Regions from separate parts of the Homo sapiens genome. Here regions 1, 2 and 4 are each linked to region 3. Evidence: fine-mapped expression QTL. A gene starts in region 3. Each other region holds a variant in brackets. All regions are shown on one strand. Distances are from middle to middle.

Region 1 (5,152 bases), 77 kb after region 3:
ATATCACTGTTGACTCAACACTTTAAATGGACTAAAATTCCCCGGTGTTTTCATAGTTGCCACTATTCTATCACATCTTCCTTTCATTCCTAACCCCTGGCTACAATTCCCTTCTCTAGAGGTGATGAGAATTGGCAGTTGCTTGTGCATGTTTCTAGAGATATTCTTTTCATAAAGGTACAAATGGTACTATACTATGTACCATTGTTATTTGTATAGATGCACTATTAAACACCTTACTTTCTTCACTAACTGTATCTTGGAGAATCATTCATATTGGTATATAAAGAACTTCCCCATTTCATTTCAAGACTACATCATATTCTATAGTATGGATGTCTCATATTTGTTTAAGAAGTTACATATCAAAGAATATTCATGTAGTATGTTGTCTTTTGCTATATTATAATTGGATAACTACATATTCCTCATTTTCTATATTTAGTAACCTATCTTATAGATATATCCTCAGGACTGGAACTTCAGGGCCAAAAGATAAGTGCATATTAAGTTTTGTTATGTATTTATGCCAACAATTTATACCAAAATTATACCTGTTCACATTGCCACCAGCAATGTATGAGACTACCTGTTTGGGGGAATTTCTGAGTTTTTTTGTTAATCATAACTGCAGTAGGTAGAATTAACCAACTGATTTTTTTATTTTATAAAATTGATCTAGGATTGAAGGAATTAAGCTCAAGCCACAGGTTCTCTGTCCTGATGATAATCATTGTACTTTTGAGTGGCAATTTGATCTCATGTGTATCTAAATCCATAAAATAGCAACAGAACAGGAATCAATTGTGTTTTTAAAACGCAAACCTTTGGATGGTTTCATTACTTAATGCAGACTCGTGCATTTAAATGGGAAGCTAAATTGAATGCCATAATCATATTGTTTATTAAAGTTTTTGTTAAAAGTAATTTTGAAAGAATCATTTTACATTTGTCGCTTCAGTCAGACTGAACCTAAAGACTTATTAATTATAAAAAAATTTTTTAAGTGATCCCCATCACAGTCTATAGGGCCTGCCCTCTGTGATTTCCTCTGTGGAGGTCAGTCTTGGTTTTGCTCACAGGAAGCTTTATGTTTCTTGTCCTGTATGTCAGTGTGGTCTGACAGCAATCCCCAGGTCCTGGCCAGTGGTACTGATGTCACATTATTTTATGCCGCTTGCTTCGGCGTATCCTTGAGGTAGCCATGGAACCAGAATCCACTCTGATGGCTTTCTCCTGATAGGTGAACAAGTAATTGCATTTGCAGTCTGAGGACATTTATTTCCAGAAGATCAGCCCTGTGCCCCTGAATCCTGCAGCACTTAATCAGAGCACTAAGGGAGCGACCATCCCCAAGGCCTTGTCACTCTGGCTCTCGAGTCCTGCATTTTATACAAGAAACAGCTTAGGGTTCACTGAGCTGAATGTGCCTGAAAAAGAGAAACCCAACTTGCTCACAGACACCATTGTATTCTATGAACACAAACTGATTTTGTGATTTTCACTAGACATAAATGTTGATGCCTAGGTTTAAAAAGAAAACGTTCTTTGGATTTGTTAGAGAGGATTGTTTTGGCCCTTTTCTTGAAGTCAGTGAAACATTAGTATGATATTGGGGTAGAAAAATTCCTCATAGTTGAAATATTTTAATTGTGTTTATTGGTCTTGTGGTGTTGGCTGCCAGTTGAGTTGTCTACTCCAAATTGACAGTAACTCCATAAGTCACAAGCATCTGAGATATATTTTGTGTATTTTGAGGGTCTTTAGTGAATATATAATATTCCATATGGTTTTAGAATTCTAAAGTGATTAGGATTAATTTCCATCCCAGCATCATTGAATTTAGGACCTCAATTTTCTAACCACACATCAGACTGTGCAGTCGACCCTCTGCATCCACAAGTTCCACATCTGTGGATTCAACCAACTATAGATAAAAAAATATGGAAAAAAGCCAATACAAATAACAAAACAACAATAAAAATAATACAAATAAAAACAACACATGATAACAGTTATTTATCTAGCATTTACAGTGTATTTGGTATTATAAGTAATCTAGAGATGATTTAAAGTATACAGAAGAATATGTGTAGCTTATATGAGAATATTATTCCATTTTATATGGGAGACTTGAGCATCCTCAGGTTTTCATATCTTCCGGGGTCCTAGAACCAATTCCCCAAGGATACCAAGGAACGACCGTAGTTTCCAAGTAAAATATGCCCCAATTTATTATCACCTTTACTGATACTAGTTACTCTAATTGAGCAAGTGAGAAGATATTGTATTATGATCTGAAGAGAAATCTGTAAACTGTTAAAATATTGAATTTGTGATAAAGTGTCCTTGACTCTACTTTTAAGGACCGTCATTTAATTAGCAGCAACAGTGGGGCTTCTCTACAGACATGACTAGTTTAGCAAAGGAAAGGGGAAACCAAGACCTTGAAAAGCAAAAGGCATTTTACAAAATAGATTCCATAATTAGTTGAGTTATTACATCTCTGAAAAGGGCAGGCTTCTCTAACTACATATCTACTCTGTGACTTTTCTTTCAAATTGATGCCTGAGACTTCCTTGATTTTAAAAAAGTCACCATAATGGAAAAAATAAGATGTTATGTTTCCTATAAAAAATAGGAACTAGTGTTTCAGGCTATCCTTTTTCCTGTTTCCAAGCTGTTAATGGAGAGAAATTTCTTTTAAAGCCCAGTTCTAATGCAAAAGAGGTGACTGCATTTTAACTGGCAGCCTGAAATGTTATCAGCTCATTTAGATGTAGAGTCTGTTATTTAAAAATATTGTGTTTCTTTTTAGTGCTTTTTACCTCTAACATACTATTTTTAATA[A/AT]TTTTTTTTTTTTACCAGTTAACTAGGTAGCAATACTACAGCCATGCTAGTTAACACGCCGCTTAATATTTCTTAATGTGAATTCATGTATTTTGGAACTTGATGTTAAAAAATAATTTTAAAAATCAATTTTAAAGATGCTCATGCCTGTAATCCCAGCACTTTGGGAGGCCGAAGCGGGTAGATCACCTGAAGTTGGGAGTTCAAGACCAGCCTGACCAACATGGAGAAACCCTGTCTCTACTAAAAATACAAAATTAGCTGGGCGTGGTGGCACTTGCCTGTAATCCCATCTACTCGGGAGGCTGAGGCAGGAGAATCACTTGAACCCAGTAGGCGGAGGTCATGGTGAGCTGAGATTGTGCCATTGTACTCCAGCCTGGGCAATAAGAGTGAAACTCCGTCCCGGGAGAAAAAAAAATCCTCCTTTGGTGCCTCTGTGGGCCATTCTAGATTATGGTAAATAGAATTAAGTACACAGGTAACCTTCTTTATGTCCTTCATTATTTTTCTGAACCTAATTTCACATGTTATGTTCTTATGTTGTTATTTTGAGACAAGGTCATGCTGTGTCACCAAGTCTGGAGTGCACTGATGCAATTACTGCTCACTGTAGCTTTGAATTCCTAGGCTCAAGCAATCCTCCTATCTCAGCCTCCCAAGTAGCTGGGACCATAGCACATGCTACCATGCATGGCAAATTATTTTATTTTATATAAGATGGGGGTTTACCAAGTTGCCCAGGCTGGTCTCCAACTCCTGGGCTCAAGCAATCTTTTGTCTCGATCTCCCAAAGAGCTGGGATTACAGGAGTGAGCCACTGTGCCCAGCCCATATTATATTCTTTAAGATTATTCTTCTAAGTATGATACTTTCCCTCTACTTTTAATCCTCCCACCTACCAAATGGCTAGTTGTTTCTGTTTCCTTTCTTCAGGTTCTTTCTGCGTTGTCTTTATGAGACAAGGGGATATGCAATGAATATTGGATATTGGAAGTCAATGAATAGTTTTATGCAATGATGTTTTTATGAGAATATTCCTCTATTATTCAAAATAGCATTGAGGGGGCATCTTTATTCAAATAATTGTTAGTGCCTAGCTAGGACTCTGAGAGCTTACTGTTTATTAAAAATAAATTTCCGTATACACCAAGCTTGAGAAAGATAGTTCTATAAACATATTCTACATATGGACTGAATCTACTAATATGTTATCCAATGATTTGTTTTTATTAACTCTTTCCAGTATTCCACACAGAAAAGGCTTATGTGTCAAAGTTTCCTTCTTTTTTCTAACCCAGATTTTATATTTTATATCCCTTCTCTGTGTTTTTTTTTTTTTTTTTTTTGATGGAGTCTTGTTCTGTTGCCCAGGCTGGAGTACAGTGGAGTGATCTCAGTTCACTGCAACCTCCACCTCCCAGGTTCAAGCAATTCTCCTGCCTCAGGCTCCCGAGTAGCTGGGATTACAGGTGTGCGCCACTATGCCCCGCTAAGTTTTGTATTTTTGTTTAGTAGAGGTGGGGTTTCACCATGTTGGCCAGGCTGGTCTTGAACTCCTGACCTTAGTGATCCACCCACCTCAGCCTCCAAAATGCTGGGATTACAGGTGTGAGCCACCACGCCTGGCCCCATTTTCTGTTTTTAAGACACCTAAATTTTCCTGACATACCATTGGGATTTAATAACTTTATGAGGAGACTATAGGGAACTTGGAGTTAAAAATGGAAGGAGTAATTAACCCAACCCCTTGTAGTCATTAGCAGGCAAAGTCAATGAATTTGCCATAGCAAATGCAGGTGTACCCTGTTGACTTCTAATGGTATTGTCTTCACTTTCTGTAATCATTTTAGGACCTGCTCAGTGCTGTAGAAGCAAAAGAAGCTCTTGAAAGGGAAGTTAAGATCTTCCAAGAAAGGCTGCTTGCTGGCCAGCAGGTCTGGGATGCCTCAAAGCAGGAAGTGAGCCTCCTGAAGAAAAGCTCTTCTGAGTTGGAGAAGAGTTTGAAGGCCAGTCAGGATGCAGTCACAACCTCACAAAGCCAGTACTTCTCATTTAGGGAGAAAATCGCAGCCCTCCTTAGGGGCAGATTGAGCATGACTGGGTCCACTGAGGACACCATTTTGGAGAAGATTCGAGAAATGGACAGCCGGGAAGAAAGCAGGGACCGGGTGAGTGGGTCATGGCTGTTTACAGACATCTTAAGAACAGTGAGCTCATTCATTTAGCATGCTCAGTGACTGTATTAGTCTATTCTCACGCTGCTATAAGAAATACCCGAGACTGGGTAATTTATAAAGAC
Region 2 (5,152 bases), 92 kb after region 3:
GCAATAAAGTAAGTGCAATAAAGTGAGATGTGCCTGTAGTTAGCCAATTTCCGGCCATCTTCGGTGACTGGGAATCCACTCCCTACTGGACAGTGTCTTTACACAGCTGTAATCATTGTAAAGTTTTCCCTTTCTTCTTTATTTTGATTATTTATTATTTTTAATTTTTTTTCTCAGACCTCACAGGGAAGAGTTTTTCCTTTCTTAGAAAGGAATGCTTAAGTGAATGATGACACATTCTCATGATGAATTCTTAATGCAGCCATTAAAATGTTAATTAAGAATTTCAAACGGCATGAGAATAATTAGGTAAAAACAAAGACATGAAATTGCATGTATAATATTTCAACTATATTTTAACAATACACAAAAACAAATTATTTAAAAATATTAATGGCTTTTGCCTCTGGGTGGTGGGATCACAGGGGATTGTTTTTTGCCTGTTTATACTTTTTGTGGTTAAAAGAAATTTCATGGGGATATCTTACTTTATAATTATAGGAACTGGGGAAAACATTTTCCTTTCATAAATATGGAATTTCTTCTCTGATTTATACCTGTTGGTTCTCAATATAGGCTCCGAGGGTAACTCAGAACAAATCCTTTTGTTCTCCCATATAATAGCCTTTCAAAAAGTTTAAAGGCAGATTACGTGTTTAAGCACGGCTGTTTATAGATGGGCAAACAGAAATTGTTTTCTTTTTAAAAATTTAGACAGTAAAAATCTGAAACAGTCAGGATGTTTCCATTTCTGTGAGAATGGTACTGTACTGTTATGTAAATACTATGTTTTCCCTCTTCTCTTCCAAAATAAACCATCGAAAGAAAACAAATTTATCACCCTAGGCTTGGTGGTTTTATTGAATTCAACATTTTATGAAACTGGATTTAGTAAAATCAGTTTGAGTTTTCTGAGAGTGTCCCTGAGGTCCTTGGTAAACTTGCACTCTTGGTTTAAGGGAATGATCAGGACAAAAAGAGGAACTCCTGGGAAGGATGGGAGCATTGGGCAAATCAGGTGGGTTGTGGAGAGCCTGGAGGGACTTTAACATGGGACAGTACTCAGATTCCCCTGCTCTCTTGTACATTGACACTGACCTTATTTAGAGTCACCATATTAAAGAGATGTTGACCTCTCCAATGCAAAAATGGTATTACTCTATAACTATGTAGTGTAGAGTCAGCATCCCTGGAGTTTAGGGCATAGGTAACCAATCTTCAACAGAAAGCTGAAAAAAGTTTGAAAAAGCATATATCTGTACATGAATTCCCTGTAATACCTCAATGTTACCTACCAAGATTATCTCACTGTCTAATCTTAAGTCAACTCAAAATGGTGAAAGAATTTTTCTGGGGAATGACTCTTTGTAGATTTTTACAGTACTTTTTGTCTTAATTCTTTTTCCTACTAAACTTTGAAACTCTTAGCAATAGTTTTGGGGTAAGTAAATGTTATCCATAAATTTTTATTGATTAACCTGATAAAAGAATTATATAAAAATTAAAAATACCAATCGAAAAATTTAATTCAATAATGAAAGTAGATTATTTCAAACAGAGGCAAATACAGCTATCAATTACATATTTTAAATGGGATTTTTACAAATAATCTGGAAGTTGGTATCATAAACAGTTATGCTGCTTAGGCAGAGCAGTAGATGTGAACACTTCCTTGCATCTGAAACAAGGCTTATTCTTGATCTGTTTCTTTGTTTCCAGATGGTCTCCCAGCTTGAAGCCCAAATATCTGAGCTTGTTGAACAGTTGGGAAAGGAGTCTGGGTTTCACCAGAAAGCTCTCCAGAGGGCCCAGAAAGCAGAGAATATGTTGGAGACTCTTCAGGGTCAGCTGACACACCTGGAGGCAGAGCTGGTTTCTGGAGGTGTTTTGCGAGACAACTTGAATTTTGAGAAACAAAAAGTAATGACCCGAGGGCATGTCCATGAGTGGAAGCATCTGTTGTAGTATAAAATTTTACCTGAAAATATCCTGAATTTTACAGTATTTAGTTTGGTTAAGTCCTGGACTTAATTGGTTAAGTCAATTTCAAGGAACAATGGGTTTGGAGCTTCCTTGATTCAAATTAATTTAATTAAACTCAACGAGTATTTATTGAATGCCTACCATATATGAGGTCCTAAAGGTTTGGCAAGCTAAAATATGAATAATACACAGTTCCTGATCTTAAAGGCTCATAATTCAATAGGGGAGACAGATACTCAGATAATTTGCTGTACTATAAGTTTACACATGTTATATGTATTGAATTAATAAAGTGCTGTAGGAACTTCCAGATAAAGGGAAGATTTTATAGGAGAGGAGATAATTAAGTTCATTTTTGAAAGATAAGTCAGATTATAGTGGAGACAGGAGACAGATACTGTAGGGGAAACAGTTTGAAGAAAGGCATGAAATCTGGCAAGTGCATAGTATATTCAGAGGACGCAAAATGGTGAATCCTCCATGGCTGGAACATGTTATTCTCGGTGGATCTGTGGCAAGAGAAAAGACTGGAATGGCTTAGACTATGAAGATGGAGTGTTCTTTACTCTGTAGAATATGAAGTGTGGTAAGTGTGAGCATTGCAGTATTTTATTTTATTTTATGTTTATGTTTATTATTTCTATTTTTTTGAGACAGAGTCTCGCTCTGTTGCCCAGGCTGGAGTGCAGTGGCGTGATCTCGACTCACTGCAACCTCTGCCTCC[T/C]GGGTTCACACCATTCTCCTGCCTCAGCCTCCCAAGTAGCTGAGATTACAGGCGCCCGCCACCACGCCCGGCTAATTTTTTGTATTTTTAGTAGAGACGGGGTATCACTGTGTTAGCTGGGGTGGTCTCGATCTCCTGACCTCATGATCTGCCCGCCTCGGCCTCCCAAAGTGCTGGGATTACAGGTGTGAGCCACCGTGCCAGGCCACATTGCAGTATTTTAGAAAGATAGCGTGATGTCCCCGTGGAGCTGAGATTGTGGCATGGAGGGTCTCGGAAACAATGGCACTGATAACCCAGTGGGAGAGGAGAGTTAGACGGGAAGAGAAGGAGCCCGCACTGAGGATTCGAATGTGGGGAGACTGTCAGTGATCTTTGAGAGGCAGTTTTGGTGGAGCGGTGGAGAGCAAAAGCCAGTTTGTTTGTGCTGAGGGGATCCTTGAGAGGAAGGGGAGCGACCTTCTAGTAGACCAGTGTGAAGTCTGGTGACCAAAGAGAAGAGAGGCATGAGGCAGTGGCTGTGAAAAACAAGATCAAAGAAAGGTTTTGCTGGACAGGATGGCGGGGAAAGTATGGACTGAAAGAGTCTGCAGGAGGGAGTGTGGGAAGGGAAAGGGAGGCACACAGGCCCAAGAGCCTCGATGCCAAATTTGGCATGAAAAATGCCCTAAAGTTGAAACATGTACACTCAAGTAACATATTCCTTTTCATTCTTCTGTACTTAAAACATTGAGGAATCATCATGCCTGCATTGAGGTTGGATATGCAAAGATGTGCCAAAGGTGTCTGTGGAAAATCAAGTCTAGCAGATGAGACAGGGAGATCGGGGCGTAATAGTACAATAGTGCAATTAGTGCGCTTAGTGCAATAGTACAATGGTGCAATAGTGCAATTAGTGCAAATAGTACAATTAGTGCCATGATGGAGACAGGTATAAAATTTAACAGAAACCTGGAAAAAGGAGCAATGACTTTTTTTCTGTGTGGTAAGTGAGCCATCTTCACAGAAGAGGGGAGCATTAAAGAATGAGTAGGAATTTGTCAGGCAGAAGAGGTGGGAAGGAATTTGAGGCAGAAAGAATAGCAGGAACAAAGAAGAAATGGAGGTGTGAAAAGAAGGCTCAGGAAATGAATGAGGTGCAGGGAGCCTGGGACATGATACTTGGCGAAACCAAAGGTGTGAGATGGCACTGGAGGCAGCTATAGGAATGATCGAGATGGGTCAGTCTAATGACTCAGGCTTCACTGCGTAGGTAATGGGAAGCCAGAGAAGGTTTTTGAGTAAAAGAAAGATTTCCCTCAAGTCAGACTCGCTTAGAGGGTAGCAGGGGTGTCCAACCTTTTGGCTTCCCTGGGCCACATTGGAAGAAGAAGAATTGTCTTGGGCCACACGTAAAATACACTAACAGTAGTGATAGCTGATAAGCTAAAACAAACAAACAACAACAAAAACACACACACACACAAAACAAACAAAAAACAACCATGCATAATTTTTGAGGTATCTGCCACCACAGATAAGCAAAAAGTCCTCGCCTTCCAAGGGTTGGACACAGCTGAGGGAAGGTAGGGAGCCCAGTTGGTGGCTCCCTGACTGGTCCAGTTAGATAGTCCAGTTCAGACTAGCCCAGTTCAGAAGATAATAAAGATCTGAACCAAGTAGTGGTTTTGTGAATGGAAATAGGGGATAGATTTGAGAAGTCTGGGAGAGTGAAGGGAGCTTTTTCTGTTAGATGTCTGTAAAGGTGTGATGGTGGAAAATTTGATTTTGTAAAGAAATATTGGCTGGGTTTGGTGGCTCACACCTATAATCCCAGCACTTTGGGATGTTGAGGCAGGTGGATCGCTTGAGCTCTGGAGTTCAAGACCAGCCTGGGCAACATGGTGAAACCCCATCTCTACAAAAAACACAAAATTTAGCTGGGCATGGTGGCACACACTTGTGATCCCAGCTACCTGGGAGGCTGAGATGGGAGGATAGCTTGAGCCTGGGAGGTGGAGGTTGCAGTGAGCTGAGATCATACCACTTCAGCCTAGGTGACAGAGTGAGACCCCGTCTCAAAACAAACAAACAAACAAACAAAAAACCAAAAACAGGCCAGATGTGGTGGCTCATGCCTATAATCTCAGCACTTTAGGAGGCTGAGGTGGGTGGATCACTTGAGGTCAGAAGTTCAAGAACAGCCTGGCCAACATGGTGAAACTCCATCTCTACTAAAAATACAAAAAATTAGCCAGGTGTGGTGGTGTGTGCCTGTAATCCCAGCTACCCAGGAAGCTGAGGCAGGAGAATCGCTTGAATTTGAGAGGCAGAGGTTGCAGTGAGCCAAGATTGCGCCATTGTACTCCAGCCTGGGTGACAGAGACTCCCTCTCAAAACAAACAAACAAACAAACAAACAAACACAATAAAACAACCACGACCAAACAAAATGAAATATTGCACC
Region 3 (5,152 bases):
GGAGAATCGCTTGAATCCAGGGGGCGGAGTTTGCAGTGAGCAGAGATCGCTCCATTGAACTCCAGCCTAGGTAACGAGCGAAACTCTGTTTGAAAAAAAAAAAGAAAAGAAAATTTGACAAGTTTGTAGTGGTTCTACTGCAAGGAAAAACTACAACTTAAAAATGTGTTTACTCCAAATTGTACTATTAATAGGAGATTTCTGAAAGCCTAAGTTTTCATTAAGAACTTTTTCTTTAACGGTGCATCAAGTGAAAGCCTTGAGATGATTCTGGATTAGATATATGGCAAAGTTACCGTGAGCTCAAAAGCCATTGTCCAGATGAAGAAATCCTCAGGGTCAATATGAATGCACATAGGATGACTGATGGAATCCAAGAAAAGCTGCCATAGCTCTGATTTTGCCTTTTTGTGTTGTCTTTAGAGACATGCTCTTGCTCTGTCGCCCAGGCTGGAGTGCAGTGGTGATCATAGCTCACTGCAGCCTTGACCTCCTGGGCTCAAAGCTATCCTCCTGCTTTAGCTTTCTTTTTTTTTTTTTTTTTTAAGATGGCGTCTTGCTCTGTCACCCAGGCTGGAGTACAGTGGTGCTATCTCAGCTTATTGCAACCTCCGCCTCCCAGGTTCAAGCGATTCTCCTGCCTCAGCCTCCCAAGTAGCTGGGATTACAGGCATGTGCCACCACACCTAGCTAATTTTTGTATTTTTAGTAGAGACAGGGTTTCACTATGTTGGCCAGGCTGGTCTCGAACTCCTGACCTCAGGTGATCCACCTGCCTCAGCCTCCCAAAGTACTGGGATTATAGGTATGAGCCACCTCACCTGGCCCCGCCTTAGCCTTCTGAGTAGCTAGGACTACAGGTGTGCACCACCATGCCTGGCTAATTTAAAAAAAAAAAAAAAAAACTTGTAGAGATAGAGTCTTGCTGTATTGCCCAGGCTGGTCTCAAACTCCTGGCCTCAAGCAATCCTCCCACCTGTTTGATTTCATGTGTCTCAAACAGCATAGGAGTCTACTAAAGGCTTTTTTCTTTTTTTTTTTTTTTTTTTTTGAGGCAGATTCTTGCTCTGTCACCCAGGCTGGAGTGCAGTGGCTCAATCTTGGCTCACTGCAACCTCTGCCTCCCAGGTTCAAATGATTTTCCCTGCCTCAGCCTCTCAAATAGCTGTATTACAGGTGTCCGCTACCACGCCCGGCTAATTTTTGTATTTTTAGTAGAGACAGGGTTTCACCTTCTTGGCCAGGCTGGTCTCAAACTCCTGACCTCAAGTGATCCACCCATCTCAGCCTCCCAAAAGTGTTGGGATTACAGGAGTGAGCCACCGCGCCTGGCCCACCAAAAGCTTTAAAGTGAGGTGAATGCAGATTCCATTTTCAGATTCTGCTACAAATTGTGGGACCTTAAACAAGTTACTCATCTTCTCTGTGCTTTAGTGTTATGATCTGGAGCCTGATCTTCATTCTACCACTTACCCTGTACATCTTGGAAATTTTATTTTATTTCCCTGTGACTGTTGCCTTGTCTTGCAGATGGATTATTCTAACATCCACTTCATAATCTTGTTTCATTTAAGGAGATTGATCATACGTGGGAAGCACTTAGAACAGTGCATGGACGAGCACGAGTATTTCATAATGAGCAGCTGTGGCTGTTACTAACACTGGTATTACTAGTACCCGTACTTCCAGGCAGGGTTGTTGAGAAGGTGAAATGAAAGAACGCACACCAGGGCAGGCTACATAATTTGTGGACCCCGGTACAGAATGAAAATGCAGGACACCTTGTTCAAAACTTCCTAAAAACGTCAAGACTGGGACAGCTGAGTATTAAACCAAGCGCAGGACCCGGACCTGCACAGGTTGCACGCTCGCAGACACATTTGCACACAGTGTGTGCTAAATAAATGCTCCGTTCACCCTTGTGAAGTTTCCTATGCCTCACTCGCGCCAGCACCGTTCACAGTGCCCACTGGCTGTATTTATCGCTGACATAAGGATGAGGCCTGGAATTGCATTCACTGCAGAGTCCCACCGGGAGGACCGACCGTTATCCCCGCCGACTCCCCCCAGGTCGCCCTGGCAGTTTCGGCCGCTCAGTTGCAGGCCCTCGCCACGGAGGCCACGCTCGGGGGTTCGGGGTCCACCCCGGCCTCCTGCGGCCGGGCCACCCTACTCGCGCGCAGCCGCGCGCCGCCGCGTCCCCGCGGTGTTTACCCGTTGCCCGAGGAGACACCCGCGCCACCCGCCGGCTCCCGGCGCCGCCGCTTCCTCAGGGCCGGTTCCGGGTCCGAGCGCGCCCCCGGGCTCGGGTCGTCATGAGCCTGGACTGCACCAGCCATATCGCGCTGGGTGCCGCTTCGCCAGCGCCCGAGGTACGGTCCCAGCCGCCGGCCGCGCGCGGGGGTGGCCCTGGGGATAGACGACCCAGGAGGGGCCGAGGCGCCCCTGATTTGCACCCTTTTCCTCCCGGAGGCGTGGGCAGAATCAGAGCAGCTCTGTGCCCGCGAGGGCTGTGGCCTGGGACTGCCAGGGCGCTGATTTCAGGAGGGGATGGGCAGGACCGGAGTTTGCGGAGCGCGTCTGAATTTTAGGTTGTGCCACTCTGCTTCTCTGACCATTTAAACCGGTGACATTCGAAAGACTGTGGCCGGGCAGTTCCTCCCCGCCACCCCTGGGAGCAAAGAATTCCTTCATTTAACTTTCCCTGCTTAGCTACTGAAGTGTGCTTCGGAGCAATTTCTGGAAAATCTGATGTGGCAGGAGGAGGGCCAGCCCGGAGTAGAGTCACCGGCCCTTTCGTTGCGAAGTAATCCAGAAACGTTGGTAATTCAGTTGTTCCTGAATGCATCTACTCATTTACTCCCAGGAGTTACTTAGGTACTGGGGACTTTCAGGTATTAGATGTACCAATGCGCGCGCGCACACACACACGAACATGCGCGCATACACAGACGCTCGTGCACACACGCGAACAGGCACATACGCGAACAAACACGGGCGCGCACACACACGAACACGGGCATATGCATACTTGGGCGCACAAGAAGATCTGGCTGGCTCAGTCTGGGTTAAGAATCCCCCTTTGGCCTTGGCATCGGGGCCCACCGGGTATCGTGTGTATTGGGAGTAGTTGCCAGAGATGGGGGAATTGTGTTCAGCTCAACTGCTAACCGCAAGTAACTCACCCAATTAGTAAATGATGGAGGATTTTTCTTTCTTTCCAAAGTTTTGGACTTTTCCTACCACGCTGTGTACTGACCATAGATATCCCTGGGGGATGTAGTGGATTCAAAACATGAGTTGGATTCTCCAACGTGCCATCGGAATTCTTCTAATATTCAGCAGCTTTGATTGTTGTTTTACATCTGACCTGTATTTAGATTTCTCTGATTCCTGGAATATTTGTGGAAAATAAGTACCACTGTGTGCAAATAAAACTATTTTTTCTTTCTTTCTAACTCAGAGGCCAGTTACTAGATGTTTTTTCTTTCATCTGACATTTTCATATTTGACTTTATTAATTTTTATCCCAATGTGGTGTCTTAACCATACATAAGTATGTGGTATTTTTATATTATTAATATATATTTTTTTTGGTGAGCCCATTGAGAGTAAATTACAGCCATCATGATTCTTTCTTTCTCTCTCCTTTTTTTCTCTTGTTCTCTCCCTCCCTCCTTTTCTTTCTTTCTTCTTTTTTTCAGACAGGGTCTCACCTTGTTACCCAGGCTCGAGTGCAGTGGCACGATCTCGGCTCGCCGCCGCCTTGACACCCCTGGGTTCAAACGATCCTCTCACCTCAGCCTCCAGAGTAGCTGGGACTCCAGGCATGCCATGATGCCTGGATAATTTTTGTGTTCTTTGCAGAGGCAGAGTTTTATCGTGTTGCTCAGGCTGGTCTCAAACTCCTGAGCTCAAGCGATCCACCTGCCTCAGACTCCCAAAGTGCTGGGATTACAGAGATGCACTACCATGCCTGGTCCCCTATGACCTTTCATCTGTAAATACTCTGGTGTGTTATCTCCTATGAATAAGGGCATTCTCTAACGAACATACAATGATCAAAATCGGGATGTTTAGCATTGTGACAATAATATTATCTAATATACACGACCTACTAAAACTTTGCCACTTGTCCCAATTATGCCATTTATTGCCAATTTTTTTTCCATCTCAGGATCACACACTGTATTTAGTTATGTCTCCAGTCTCTTCAAACCTGGAACAGTTCTTCACATTTTTTTTGTTTGTTTTTTTGTTTGTTTGTTTTTGTCTTTGATGATACTGACATTTTTGCAGAGTCCAGGTCATTCGTTTTATAGAGTAAGTTTCTCTGATTGTCCTTCGTGATTAGATTTTTGGGTAGGAATAACATAAGAGATGTTATGTCTCAGAGTATCACATCAGGAGGGGCATATATCAGCTTATCCCATTATTGGTGATGTCCCCAGCTGGTGGCCTCTGCCAGATTTTTCCCCTTTAGCAATAAATAAGAAATCATATTAGTTGAGTAATAATATTGATTCGGATAGAAATTTTTAGCATAAGTCACTGCCTACAAAAGGAAAATGTCCATTAAGCATGAGATTTTAATTGGCTTAAAATAACTAAATTTTATTGAGAACAAAAGTAGCTGCAGAAAAGGCAGCATTTATTACAATTAAATGTTCAGTTTGCAAAATACTTTATCTGAGATCATCTTATAATTTAGATAGGCGGGGCAGAAATTTCTCACTATATAAGATGAGGAAATAGCTTACTGGATTAGAAATGATGGAGCAGGGACTTGTATCTTTCTTTCAAAAGCTTTGTACTTTTCCTACCATGCCAGACTGAAAACATTAAATTACAAAGCAGTGATAGTCTGCAACTTTCTGGAAAAGTAAAATACTGTAGAGACTGAGATACTAGTTTTAGACTCAAAACTAGATTCAAACAATCCTGATTATACCACTCATCTGTGACATCTTGGTCAAAACAATTAATGTATCAGCATTTTAGTTTTTTCTTCTAAAACATGGAATCATAAAACTTATCGCATAACGTAGTTTGAGGATTTCACGGTTAATAAATGTAAGGCACTCAAGAGAGTGTCTGACAGAATAAGTGCATATCAATATTAGCTATCGTTATTCTTTGTAACTTTTGGAAT
Region 4 (5,152 bases), 130 kb after region 3:
AATCTCTGAAGGTTGGCAGTTGATGTGACTTATCTGGAATCTGGTATTTTATAAGTGAGAGAACTAGGAAGAGAGTAGATAATTTCCCTACCTCATGCAAACCTGGGTTTTCTACAGGTTTTTTGTTTGTTGCATTTGGCTCAGCAGTAGTTGATACATTTTGTTCTCCCAGTTAATGAGTTTCTGTTTGATATTGCAGCTGGCAGACTTCAGGGAGGTGGTGTCGCAGATGCTAGGCTTGAACGTGACCAGCCTTGCTCTTCCTGATTATGAAATCATCAAGTGTCTTGAAAGATTGGTCCATTCACATCAGCATCACTTTGTTACCTGTGCCTGCCTCAAAGATGTGACTACTGGGCAAGAGAGGCACCCACAAGGCCATTTACAGCTTCTTCATTGAACACTGTATCTCTTGAGAGAGGTGGCCATAAGACATGGCACACAATTCCCAATTTCACAAATTCCTCATGTCTTTGAGATTTGATCAGTTTGTGAATATTTTATGCTTTGATGATATAGTGAGAATGCATCACTTGCAAAAACGATCTCAAAAGTGTCAGCCTTAGATAAACGTTCAGCATTAAAAACGCCTATTATTTCATTTACTAGCATTTTAGGATCCAGAAGAATTCCACCAGATTGCATGAGTTAGATTGGGAAATGGGAGTGGGAGATAATATTGGGAGGTATCTATTTTAAGTCAGGGGCTTTACTAGCCGATTTAGTTCTCACAATAACCATGTGGAGAAGCTGTGACATTTTTAATTTACAACCTTTCTGGGGCTCAGACATAAAGTTACCTATCCAAGGTTGCAGTTGGGTAGTGGTGGGACCAGGATGGACAACTCATTGGCCCTGCCTCAAAAGCCATACCTCTTCTCCTGCTATGCAGAATCTGTTTCTCCTGAATCTCTGTGATGCTGGTGGGAATTGTTTGCATAGAGGAAGGACAATAACCCTGCCATCGTGAGTTAATGTCCGGGCTGGTCACAGTGGTTCATGCCTGTAATCCCAGCACTTTGGGAGTCCAAGGCAGGCATATCATTTGAGGTCAGGAGTTTAAGACCAGCCTGGCTAACATAGTGAGACCCTGTTTCTACTAAAAATACAAAAATAAGCCAGGTGTGGTGGTGCATGACTGTAATCCCAACTACTCAGCAGGAGAAGCACTTGAACCCAGGAGACGGAGGCGGCAGTGAGCCAAGATTGTGCCACTGCACTCCAGCCTGGGCGACAGAGTGAAACTACATCTCAGAAAAAAAAAAAAAAAAAAAAAAAAAAAGTTAATGTCCAAAAATGACAGATTTACAAGTGTAAGCTATATGATTTCTTCAAAAAGCAAAAGCAATATACCTAATTCATTTGGATCAAACTTACATAGGTCTCAGGTCCTGTAAGAAACTTGCCTGTTCTAACTGTTGCTACCAGATTATATCTGGTGGTAATTGTTAATGTTTCAGCAGGGCTGGTCTCAGTCCTTTAAAATGGAAAGCTTTATTTGGAGCCCAACCCTATAAGATGAAGAAATCCTATATAGTCTTATTCACCAATATATCCAATACACCCACAGCAATGGTACCTTTTTAAGATCAGGATTTTATTATGAATTCCTGTCACTTTCTGTTTTCCATTTAAATTTCTATTTTACAAATTTTTCAGGGAATCATATTCTTAACTTCACTGAGAAAAATGTGTTACTCTTTTGGACAATTTATCTTATTTCTATCATATAAGATGTATTTTTTTATTGTCCTTAAAAGAAGCTCTAGCATGAAATTAAAGGAAAGGGAAAGAAATAGATCTGGTGCACCCGAACATTAGGAGAAAATGAAAAATATACAACCAACCGTTCGTGAGTCATCAAAAAGTCAAAGTCAGCCTGGCCAACATGGCAAAACTCCGTCTCTGCAAAAAATACAAAAATGAGCCCGGTATGTTGGCATATGCCTGTAATCCCAGCTACTCGAGAGGCTGAGACACGAAAATTGCTTGAACCTGGGAGGCGGAGGTTGCAATGAGCCGAGATCGCGCTACTGCACTCCAGCCTGGGCAACAGAGAGAGACCTTGTCTCAAAAAACAACAACAACAAAAAGTCAAAGTCATAATAAGCAAATTATTGGCTTCTTTCTTCTAGACTAAAAGAAATTAAAGAGATGAAACAATCAATTGCAAGGGTCAAAACTAGATTGGATCTTGGTTTGAATGAAAAAAAGCATAAAATATTCTTGCAATAATTGTAAAAATTTGAATGTGGACTAAGTCCTAGATTATATTAAAATATTTTTAATTTTTTAAGCTTGACAAATGCACTGATTGTTATACTTTAAATAACTAAAAATCTGAGAATCCACAGTGCTACAGACAATAAGTGATAAAATGGGAAAAAATAGTGAAGATCTTCTTTTAGGAAAACTACCAATAAATGTAGAATGGATGATTCCAAAAAAAAAAAAAAAAAGAAGAAAGAGAGAAAGAAAGAAACAGAAAAACCTAAAAGAAAGCGAATGAATTTGACACCTGTTGGTTGGATGACAGACCACACAGAGGGAGAGTGACCAGGCTTTGCTTGTGGAGCGG[G/A]CATCCCTGCCTAGCTATCTCCTTCATGTGCAAGGACAGTATAAGTAGTATTTTGCATGTGAGTAAACACACCTGCGCAGCCCTGGCTGAGGTCACTAGGCTGGCCAGAGGCAGGACAGGCAGTCTTGAATTTCCTCTAGGGGAGGCCTGCAGTTTTCCCCACCAACCCCTTTTCACATGCTCCAAAGATGTAGTAGTGTCTGCTGTTTTGGATCGAAAATCACCTTGAGTGGAGGAAGTGACTTCACTGGGTCTCTGGAGGCTCTCGGAGCTTGAGTGGCTCTGCCCCACCCTGAATCATGCACCCATAAATGCAGTTATGGGTGGATGTGGGTGTATGAGAGTGGAGATTGTTTTTGTACATTCTCTTTGTTTTCATTTTCCAAATATAATCTTTAATAAACTTGATTTAGTTTCTTGGGAAATTTATTTTCTACGCTATTCAAAGATATTTTAAATAATATTTTAAAAACATGAAATTTTTTTTTCATTTTTGATTTGATATCATTAATTTTATATCAGGATTCATGTAAGAGACTAAAAATGATCCATAGTGGTTAGTACTGTAATTTCTGTTTATTACATGAAATTACATTCCATTTATCCAAATATATGTTTATATAATATTTCCACTGTGTGACTCTAGTGATCTTTAACATACACAGAATGATCTACAGTGATCTTTAACATACTCAGAAATATGAAAAATGTTTGAATATGATCTTTAGGGACTTCTAATGAAAAGGGTATATGAAATGGGAACAATAAATTCTGTACATGTATACAGTCCATATACACATTAAGTGTTTGTCATTTGGACAAATTGAAAACTTTTAATAAAGCCATTTTCTTCTTTGTTAAAATGCCAGTTGGTTGTTGGATTTCCCTTTATGGCAATCATTCCAGAGTTGGCAGGCCAGCTTTGAATTTTTAGGTTAGATTTTGTTCTTCTATAATATCCATGTATATTTTATGCTGTCCAATAAAATGCACTAGGTTGATATGATTTTTACATAAGGCTTTAAAATATTTAATACTAACTCTTCTGTCAAATACACTTGAGTGATAGTGATTTTGCACTGAGGTTATTATTCTGGTCACTGTCTGAGACATCTAAATCGATGCATAAAAACATCTCATTTAGGGAAAACAATTTAAGCTTGACCTATCTAAAATTTCCAGTTTTACCTTACAGTCTGTTTTACAGGTTAACAGCAAGTGATTCAAGGTCCAGGGGTGGCAGGCTGAAGCTGTTAAAGAAATCTACATTATTGATATTGTCATAATACTTACGACTCAGAAATGGAGTCTCATTTTAACTGGGGAAGCATTTCATGGTTATGTAGCCTTTGGCTTGGAAAGTCTCACCCAGTTGATGCAGTAGTGATTTTATCCACATTATTGGACACTTCACTTAGCTTCTCATTAGCAAGTGGGGTCTGTATGCTTCTCTTTCCGCTATGTGCTTCCATACCGTATTCCTCTGCCTTTGTATAAACACATGGTTCATTTGAGGCTCCTGCTAGCTGATAGATGGATAACTTTCTTCTAGACCTCATTGGGGTTACCTACTAAAAGCCTATCTATTCTCCCTGCTTTAGACTTTTGCAAGTGGTTCATAGGTGTCTTCACTACCCCCACCGGGTGCTGCCTTCATCTTGGGTAGCTTTAATGCCCATAAAGCCAACTCATGTGACATCATACCTTTTTTTTTTTTTTTTTCTTTTTTGAGACAGAGTCTCACTGTGTCACCAGGCTGGAGTGCAGTGGTGCGATCTTGGCTCACTGCAACCTCCGCCTCCTGGGTTCAAGCGATTCTCCTGCCTCAGCCTCCCGAGCAACTGGGACTACAGGCACGTGCCACCATTCCCGGCTAATTTTTGTATTTTTAGTAGAGATGGAGTTTCACCATGTTGGCCAGGATGGTCTCGATCTCTTGACCTGGTGATCTGCCTGCCTCGGCCTCCCAAAGTGCCAGGATTACAGGCATGACCCACCACACCTGGCCTATATCTTTAGTTCCTTGGCCTTCTCAGTGCCCATACTTTTACCTCCTGTTGTTTCAGCCACTCACATCCTAGACTGCAGCTTATAGTAATCCAATTTAGACTACCTTAAGCTGAAAGGAGAATTTTGGGGGCTTGCTTGAAAGATTCAGGGGTAGACTAGCTTCAGCTTTGTTAGATCCAGGGGTTCAGAATTGGTGTCTGAATTCTTTCTGCTTCTATCCATCTCTCATGTTGACTTGATTTTGCTTGTCTTTGCATGTTGGCCTGACTTTTTCCTTCCGCACATGGGTTCCTCCATGCTACCAGAAGAGATGATCACAAGCAGTTGCATGATTGTTACAACTCATGTGGTCAGGCACGTGGCTCACACCTGTAATCTCAGCACTTTGGAAGGCTGAGAAGGGCGGATTGCTTGAGCTCAAGAGTTCAAGACCATTCTGGGCAAAAAAACAGAACAAAACAAACAAACAAAACCAAAAAAACCCACCATGAGTCGAGAAAAAGAGACACCCCCTGTCTCCAAGTGTCCATGCCAAAAATATTAGCCGAGAGGCTGATCATCTCT

Which allele goes with the higher level. Positions count from the first base shown, and alleles are read on the strand shown. Sizes are in standard deviations (SD) of each study's normalised expression. Not every link is listed here.
With allele A in place of AT in region 1, the expression in subcutaneous fat of the gene that starts at base 2,204 in region 3 is lower (moderate effect, 0.52 SD a copy in TwinsUK).

What was found. PIP is the estimated chance that this variant, and not a neighbour inherited with it, causes the effect. A credible set is the group of variants that fine-mapping cannot tell apart.
Region 1: its variant is the best candidate, but not a certain one, in a credible set for the expression of CCDC170 in subcutaneous fat (TwinsUK, PIP 0.72).
Region 2: its variant is the best candidate, but not a certain one, in a credible set for the expression of CCDC170 in whole blood (INTERVAL, PIP 0.62).
Region 4: its variant is the best candidate, but not a certain one, in a credible set for the expression of CCDC170 in whole blood (INTERVAL, PIP 0.54).

Annotation. Positions count from the first base shown.
Region 1 is chr6:151,568,471-151,573,622 of GRCh38, forward strand. It overlaps CCDC170 (coiled-coil domain containing 170), which reads left to right. Exons shown (of 11, transcript NM_025059.4): 6 at 4,704-5,021. Among named protein-coding and RNA genes, the nearest start is that of CCDC170, 77 kb to the left of the region's middle. The variant A/AT (reference allele first, on the strand shown) is at 2,851.
Region 2 is chr6:151,584,170-151,589,321 of GRCh38, forward strand. CCDC170 (coiled-coil domain containing 170) reads left to right here. Exons shown (of 11, transcript NM_025059.4): 7 at 1,720-1,920. Among named protein-coding and RNA genes, the nearest start is that of CCDC170, 93 kb to the left of the region's middle. The variant T/C (reference allele first, on the strand shown) is at 2,708.
Region 3 is chr6:151,491,814-151,496,965 of GRCh38, forward strand. It overlaps CCDC170 (coiled-coil domain containing 170), which reads left to right and starts at 2,204. Exons shown (of 11, transcript NM_025059.4): 1 at 2,204-2,372. The coding sequence starts at 2,316. It overlaps LOC124901436 (a long non-coding RNA gene), which reads right to left. Exons shown (of 2, transcript XR_007059817.1): 2 at 4,594-5,152.
Region 4 is chr6:151,617,748-151,622,899 of GRCh38, forward strand. It overlaps CCDC170 (coiled-coil domain containing 170), which reads left to right. Exons shown (of 11, transcript NM_025059.4): 11 at 200-3,446. The coding sequence ends at 400. Among named protein-coding and RNA genes, the nearest start is that of CCDC170, 130 kb to the left of the region's middle. The variant G/A (reference allele first, on the strand shown) is at 2,579.